Homo sapiens: one gene and its partner. The protein of the gene in region 1 interacts with the protein of each later gene in a biochemical or structural test. Each region holds a gene or a part of one and is shown in the gene's direction. Other genes may lie near its edges. The genes, in order: COPG1 and ARCN1.

Region 1 (3,812 bases):
CTGGAGGTGGAGGTTGCAGTAAGCCGAGATCGTGCCACTGCACTCCAGACAGAGCGAGACTCCGTCTCAAAAAAAAAAAAAAAAAAAAAGAGTCCTTCTGGAGCAGAGTGGAGGGGTGACTGGGTAAAGAGACTGTTGGAGTAATTCAGAAGGAGAGGATGGTGCCTGAACCGGCGGGAGTAGGAGAGGTGGGACAGTGCAAGAGCTTTTTGAGGGATAATGCCTGTTGGCAGGGTTGGTGTGAGGGTTGAGGGGTGGATGTCAACAGAGATGATGCCATTTTCTACTTTGAGCTGACAGTGGTGCTCTTGACTAGTTTGCAGGGGAGGAAAAGATGGGGTATTGGATGAGGGAGGGGGAAGGAGATGGAGATGTTTGTGGTTGCAGACATGTGGAGTTTGAAGTGCTGTGGGCGCCAGGTGGAGTTGTCTGACAGGCAGTTGGAAAAGGCAGGTCTTAAGCTCAGACAGGAGATAAATATTGGGAGTCAGTGGCATATAAGAGGCGGTTAAAGCCATGGGAGGGGATAAGATTGCTGAAGAGACTGTGAGAAGAGAAGCGGCCAAGGACAGAATACCCCAGAGACAGGCTTAACCAAAAAGGAGCCAGAGGAGATGATGGGTGGGAACCATCAGTGGGAGCCAGTGGTAGGGAGAGAAGCAGGACAGGTTGGGTGGAGGGGACTCGGAGACTTAAGAAGCCTGAGTAGAAGAGCAGAGTTTGGGGAACCCAGAGTCTGAGAGTCTGACACTGGGGCTGTTGGCACTGCCTTGGGTGGGCTCAGGGATTGTGCCCTTCAAGCTTCAAGCGTGGAGTTGAGTTCCTCTGGTCTCCTTGCCCTTGTGTCATGCCCAAGGCCTGGCCTTACCTAAGGAAGGACTCAGTGGGCACTCAGGGAACTGAGTCACCCCATCTTGGTGGCAGGGCCTGCTGCTCATGCACGTCTATTTCATTTAGGTGGTGGTTGTCCAGGCCATCAGTGCCCTGTGTCAGAAATATCCTCGCAAACACGCCGTCCTTATGAACTTCCTGTTCACCATGCTGCGGGAAGAGGTAAGAGTCAGGGGCATTCGGGGGATGCCAGGTCTCCTGGTGCAGGGAGTGACCTGACCACTGGCTCCATGCTCAGCTTTGTGCGTGTGCTTATGTTAGCCTGTTAACCAACTGGTTTTCATGGTGCCTGCAACCCTTTAAACTCCTTGTGGACATGTAAACACGTACCAATTGCTAGTAATTACAGTAATAACTATGACTCACCAGCCTGACTTTAAAAACTGGATGTCCTGAGGTGATGCTTGTGCAGAAGATGGGAAAATGCATGTTCTTTTCTGGTGGACTCTAGTGCAGAAATATTCTAGACCATTCCAGGAGCTCTAGGAGTGGTTTCTTGTGAAACCGGTGCTAATAATACGACATTGGTTCTATTTCTGTTCCCGACGTGAATTACTGATTCACTTATGCCACCTTTCTTGGACGTCTCAACAAAATGGGTTAATTCTTAGGAGCAATAGCAGATGTTCATGGAGTAGATTTGTTCCTCAGATACATGGTACCCCTTTCACCCAGCCCCAGAGTGGCCCATGGACTAGGCAGTAGAGGAGCCATTGCCTTGAGTGTCTTTGCGTTTCCCAAGAATGTTGTTGTAGAAGGGCACTAATGTTTAGTGAGTTGTCAGCTAATGGGCCCAGCACTTTGGTGATTGTGTTTGTTTTTTTTAAGTAGAGATGGGGTCTTGCTGGGTTGCCCAGGCTGGTCTCAAACTCCTGGCTATAAGTGATCTTCCCACCTTAGCCACCCAAGTTCTGGGATTACAGGTGTGAGCCATCATGCCTGGCCAGGCCTAGCACTTTGGAGACACTGTATGCATGATAGCAGTTTTTTTTTTTTTCTGTTGAGTAGGAGTCTCGTTCTGCTGCCCAGGCTGGAGTGCAGTGGTGAGGTCTTGGCTCACTGCAACCTCCACCTCCTGGGTTCAAGTGATTCTCCTGCCTCAGCCTCCCGAGTACCTAGGACTACAGGTGCCCCCCACCACGCCCGGCTAATTTTTTATATTTAGTAGAGACAGGGTTTTACCATGTTGGTCAGGCTGGTCTCAAACTCTTGACCTCAGGTGATCCACCCACCTTGGCCTCCCAAAGTGCTGGGATTACAGACGTGAGCCACTGCGCCCGGCCTCCATCTGTCACCCAGGCTGGAGTGTGGTGGTGTGATCACGGCTCACTGCAGCCTCAACCTCCTGGGATCAAGCAATCGTCTCACCTCAGACCCCCAAGCAGCTGGAATTATAGGCATGCACCACCATGCCCAACTAATTTTTCTATTTTTTGTAGTGATGGGGTCTCTCCATGATGCCCAGGCTGATTTCGAATTCCTGAGCTCAAGTGGTCCACCCACCTCAGCCTCTCAAAGTGCTGGGATTATAGGTGTGAGCCACTGCACCTGACCAGCCTTTTGTTTGACAGGAAAGAGTGATAGAGGCCCAGAGAACCAAGTGCCCTGTCTCCAAGTTCTGTGTTTGGACAACTGTCCTTGGTCCAGCTCAGGTCTTCAACTCTTTTCTGGAGAGAGCAGGCTCCTTGCTTAGCTCAGCTTCTCTCTGCAGGGTGGCTTTGAGTATAAGCGCGCTATCGTGGACTGCATCATCAGCATCATTGAAGAGAACTCAGAGAGCAAGGAGACAGGGCTGTCACATCTGTGCGAGTTCATCGAGGACTGCGAGTTCACAGTGCTGGCCACCCGTATTCTACATCTCCTGGGCCAGGAGGGGCCCAAGACCACCAATCCCTCAAAGTACATCCGCTTCATCTATAACCGAGTGGTCTTGGAGCATGAGGAGGTCCGGGCAGGTAGGTCTGAGCCAGGGCTGAACTTGGAAACTTAGCTTACCCTTGAATAAATGTCCCAGCAAAGGGACCTGAGCCTCCAGTGGGGATTTGTGCACTCAGTGTTCTTGCTGCACAAGCTGTTTTTCATAATATTGTAGGCAGGACCTTACATGTCATCTAGTTGAACAGTTCTTTGTTTTTTGTTTTGTTTTTTTTTTTGAGATGGAATCTCGCTCTGTCACCAGGCTGGAATGCAGTGGCGCAATCTCAGCTCACTGCAACCTCCGCCTCCCGGGTTCAAGCGATTCTCCTGCCTCAGCCTCCCGAGTAGGTGGGACTACAGGTGTGTGCCATCATGCCCAGCTAATTTTTGTATTTTTAGTAGAGATGGGATTTCACCATGTAGGCCAGGATTGTCTCGATCTCTTGACCTCATCATCTGCCCGCCTCGGCCTCCCAAAAGTGCTGGGATTACAGGCGTGAGCCACCGTGCTCGGCCATGGTTCTTAACCCCTATAATTTTTTAAGTATTTTTTTAATTGAGACGGGGTCTTGCTATGTTGTCCAGGCTGGTCACGAACTCCTGGGCTCAAGCTATCCTCCTGCCTCAGTCTCTGAAAGTGCTGGGATTACAGAGCCACTGTGCCTTGCCTTAAGTGATTTTTTTTTTAACTTTCACTGTATGTTGATGTTTAGCTAAAAAACAAAAAGCTTTGTTGAGATATAATTCACATGCCATAAAATTCACCCATTTATATAAAGTTTACAATTCAGTGAGCAACCTTCCTATTCTTTATTTTTAATTTCTTTTCATGCCCCCACTGGACAGATTTTCTTCTTTCAGCAATAAATGATCTTTAAGTAATTGTTCCCTTTCTCATTTTTATTATTCTGAGCCTTAACTGCAAATTGACGCCATTTGGATATGGAAGGTGAGGAGCTTTACATTATAGCCAGCTTCTGTGACCTCATCATGGTTAATTTGAA
Region 2 (4,490 bases), on another chromosome or scaffold:
TCCTCCCAACTCAGCCTCCCAAGTAGCTGGGACTCTAGGATCATGCCACCATGCCTGGCTTAATTCCAGAATGTTTTAATTATTCCAGAAATAAATCTTACACTAATTAACTGTCACTCTCTATTCCTACCCTTCCTGAGCCCCTGGAAATCACTAAGCTAGTTTCTGTCTCTGTGGATTTTCTTCTATTCTGGATCTTTCGTATTAATGGAATCATATATGAGTGCCCCATTGTATCCGTCTTTTTTCACATAATATTCTCAAGGTTCATCCATATTGTAGCATGTCAGTACTTTATTCCTTTTTGTGACTAAATAATATTCCATTGCATATATATGCCACATCTATTGATGAATGGATTTGTTTGGATTGTCTCCACTTTTTGGCTACTATGAATAATGCTGCTATGAACATTAGAGTACACATTTTTGTGTTGACATATATTCAGTTCTCCTGGGTATGTACCTATGAGTGGAATTGCTCAGTCATGTGGTAATTTTGTTTAACTTTTTGAGGAACTGCCAAACTCTTTTCCAACGTGGCTGCACTATTTTACATTCATCCTCACCAACAATTATTATGATAGCCATCCTAGTGAGTGTGAAATGACGTCTCACCACGGGTCTGATTTCCATTTCCCTAAGGATATTCAACATTTCTTAATGTGCATATTAGCCATTTATATATCTTCTTTGGACACATATCTATTCAAATCTTTTGCTCATTTTAATTTTGTGTTTTCTACTCCCTCCATTTTGCAGATGAAGCCCATTTTTAGACAGGAATACTGTATTTGTCTTTTTATTGCTGAGTTATAAGAGTTCTTAGGCCAGGCGCGGTGGCTGACGCCTGTAATCCCAACATTGGGAGGCTGAGGCGGGCGGATCACTTGGGGTCAGAAGTTTGAGGCTAGCCTGGCCGACATGGTGAAACCCCGTCTCAACTAAAAATACAAAAAACAGCCGAGCGTGGTGTGGCGCGTGCCTGTAATCCCAGCTACTCCGGAGGCTGAGGCAGAAGAATCGCTTGAACCTGGGAAGTGGAGGTTGCAGTGAGCCGAGATCACGCCATTGCACTCCAGCCTGGGCGACAGAGTGAGACTCCATCTCAAAAAAAAAAAAAAAAAGTTCTTTATATATTCCGGATACTGGTCTTTTAGGCACACAGGTTATCCTGTATATTAAATAATAGTGGCTGTGCCAGCGGCTTGTTAAACTGTAAGATGTGACGCAAAATAAATGAAGGCGATGACAGTGAAAGGGGAGAGATACGAGGTTCCACAGCTGGAGGGTGAACGCCCCCTACACCTCCTGGGCTTAATCGTAACCGGAGCGGGGTACCCTCAATTTCCCCAGCCCACAGGCCCCGCCCCCCCCCCCGCCCTTTGACCTGCGCCGCTTCCGGTTGAAGACGTGGCTTGGGGCCGCCATCTTGGCAAGAGGCGAAGCGGCAGCGGTTCCTGTCAAGGGGGCAGCAGGTCCAGAGCTGCTGGTGCTCCCGTTCCCCAGACCCTACCCCTATCCCCAGTGGAGCCGGAGTGCGGGCGCGCCCCACCACCGCCCTCACCATGGTAAGATCCGAGCCAGGACCCGAACTCCTGGGGTCCGAGCCTCACCGTCTCTCCTTGTCGGCGGGCCTGGGGCAGGGGCCGGAGGAGCCCCGCCCTGAGGGTCTAGGGCAGAGTGCTTTTGCTCCGGGCTCGGGGAGCAGTGTGGCCTCCTGTGCCCGGTCTCCTGGAGATCCGATGGAGCTGACTCCAGTCCATCTGTCGTCGTGCCCGCTTCCGCACCACCCCCCAACCAGCTGGACTCCCTCGTTTGCTGGGACCTGCCCCTGAGACGGCCCGGCGTTTTTGCTCTGCGAGAACTTCGTGGTGGTGGTGCGGGTCCCAGGCTGCGGACCTCGGAACTGATGCTGTCCCGCCGGTTCCCTGGCGCTTAGGCTCAGCAGGCTGGGCCTGTCTCCGGAGGTTCTGGTCCTTCTGTTAATCAGAGCTTGTCTCCCACCCCCGGTGTTTGCTAGGCCGTTGATAACTCGAAATGCAAATCCACTGGTGTCCAGAAATTTTTCTTTTTGTTCAGAAGGGGGAAATGGAGACACAGAGCGGAAAGGAGTAACTTCTAACACTAATGTATAGGACCCAAGTGTCTCTGAAACCTTCCACTACTTCCGCAGAACTCACTTGTGTCCATTTGTTAGTGTGACTCGGGGTACATACACTGTGTAGACCACTGGGAAAATGTGAGCAGGTTCCAGAGAACACAGGGTTTGCCTTCAAGGAACTTATTGTCCAGGTGAAGAAAAATGTGTATGTGGCATGTCGTAGTCAGATGTCTCACAGGAGGTGGAGTAAGAGGGATGGGTTAGCCTCCGAGACCAGTTACTTGCCTTCCCATGCGTTATCTTTGTATACTCATCTGTTACAAGGATGAGAAAGGTTAATGTGGTTGAGGATGGAGGAAATCAGAACTGCTGACATCACTCAATCTTCCTTTATCGCTGTGATTTGTGGATATTCATGAAGTAGTAGACATTCTTTGGTTTCAAAAAAGCTAGTAATTTATTTTTCAGTGCACCTTATGTCCTTTAGTCTTTTGAAGGATGTTCTGTTCTGTTCTTTTTTATTCTTTTGTCAATAGATAACTTGATTTAAAACATCGTCCAGTGTACCTGAGAGATGGCAGAATGTAATTTGGTGGCAATCCTAATAAGTTCTATTGACAACCCTTTAGATAAGAACTTGGATAATGGGGGGAATTCATGCTTGGACTTTAGGCCACTGAACAGCTTTTCTCAGCCTCAGGTATATAAATTGCATCAAACAGGTTTGCCTCCTAAAATTTTTGTGTTGGACACAAAATTTCCAGAAACTTGTATTTTCAGTTTCTCCAGGAGGTTCTGTATTTGGTTAGTGATTTTGAAACTCAGTTCCCGTTTACACCCTGGAATTAATAATGCATTTTAGAGCATATTTTTATTTTAATAGTAAAGTTAAGGTCTTGTATTATATAAACCAGATAAAGGTAATCTTTCTAAAAATATTCTTTGTTAAAAGGTTCTTGGAACTTAGTATTTTTAATTCATTGATAACTGAGGGATGGTAAAGCCCTACGTGATATATATAAAATATAACTTTTGCATGCTATTTTGACATGTGTACGTATACATAGAGTTGTGTCACATATTTCTGAATTATTTGGGACTTAACATGATCCAGATACCCACAGATTTGTGTACTCTGGAGAACAATTTATCTCAGTACATTCTGCTCTGTAGAGTGTTAAGACATTGGTATGATTTCTGTGTAATGTTTTTGGGTCCTGCTCCTTTACAAACAGATCCCTGGACAGTAGAAATGTCCAGATAGGGTGAAATTTTTATCTAAAAGTTGTATCAAAATTTCCAGCGTTTATTTTAGCTCAACATTTCATTATGAAATTTTCCAACATCTGGAAAAGTTGAAAGAACTTTGTAGTGAATACCCATATAACCACCAACTAGATTCTATAACTAACATTTCACTATATTTTATCATGCATCTAATCATCCATCCATCCCTCTCTCCATTAAAAAAAAATATACATTTCAAAGTAAGTTGCAGATATCAGTACGTAAACATTGATTTTTTAAAAAATAAATTCCCTTTGGCTTTAGTTATTGAAGTGCAGAATGTCCTAGACTGCAAAGTTCCAATAGATAAATAAGTGAACAAATGCAGAAACAAATGCTTTCTCATGACTTCATCATAAAATAAAGTACAAAGAAAGGCATCTTTTGATTTTTTTTTTTTAAAGAGACAGGGTCTCACTATGTTGCCCAGGCTGGAGGGCAGTAGCTATTCACAGGCGCTATCATAGTGCACTGCGGCCTAGAACTCCTAGCCTCAAGCAATCCTCCCGCCTCCATATCCCAAGTAGCTGGGACTGTAGGCATGCGGGCCTTGATTTGATCTTTTTTTTGTATTCTGCAAATTAATGAGAACATGTTCTGACTTTTTTTCTTGTTTGTTTGGTTTTCGAGACGGATTCTCGCTCTGTCTCCAGGCTGGAGTGCAGTGGCACAATCTCAGCTCACTGCAACTTCTGCCTCCCGGGTTCAAGCTATCCTCCTGCCTCAGCCTCCTGAGTAGCTGGGACTGCAGGCGCCTGCCACCACGCCCAACTACTTTTTTGTATTTTTAGTAGATACGGGGTTTCACCATGTTAGCCAGGATAGTCTCGATCTCCTCACCTCGTGATCTGCCCGCCTCGGCCTCCCAAAGTGCTGGGATTATAGGTGTGAGCCATGGCGCCCGGCCCCTGTATTATTTATGTATCTTTTTAATTGTGTTTTGAGGGACAGCAAAGAAAGAAAATGATTCTCTTGAGTTTCCATTGATTTGCCATCTATTTATGTCTTCATATAGAAGTTCACTGCAGAAACTGATAACGGGTGTGTGTGTGTGTGTGTGTGTGTGTTTTAATTCTCTGCAAGCTTTTGTTTTAGAATAG

The links.
Region 2: the proteins of COPG1 (region 1) and ARCN1 form a complex in vitro, tested with the Homo sapiens proteins (one study listed by BioGRID).

Annotation. Positions count from the first base shown.
Region 1 is NC_000003.12:129,262,947-129,266,758, forward strand, and holds part of COPG1 (coatomer subunit gamma-1), read left to right. Parts: intron 1-957; coding exon 958-1,053; intron 1,054-2,602; coding exon 2,603-2,846; intron 2,847-3,812. UniProt on the Homo sapiens protein: The coatomer is a cytosolic protein complex that binds to dilysine motifs and reversibly associates with Golgi non-clathrin-coated vesicles, which further mediate biosynthetic protein transport from the ER, via the Golgi up to the trans Golgi network.
Region 2 is NC_000011.10:118,570,981-118,575,470, forward strand, and holds the start of ARCN1 (coatomer subunit delta), read left to right. Parts: upstream 1-1,428; 5' UTR 1,429-1,567; coding exon 1,568-1,570; intron 1,571-1,615; exon of another isoform or gene 1,616-4,490. UniProt on the Homo sapiens protein: Component of the coatomer, a cytosolic protein complex that binds to dilysine motifs and reversibly associates with Golgi non-clathrin-coated vesicles, which further mediate biosynthetic protein transport from the ER, via the Golgi up to the trans Golgi network.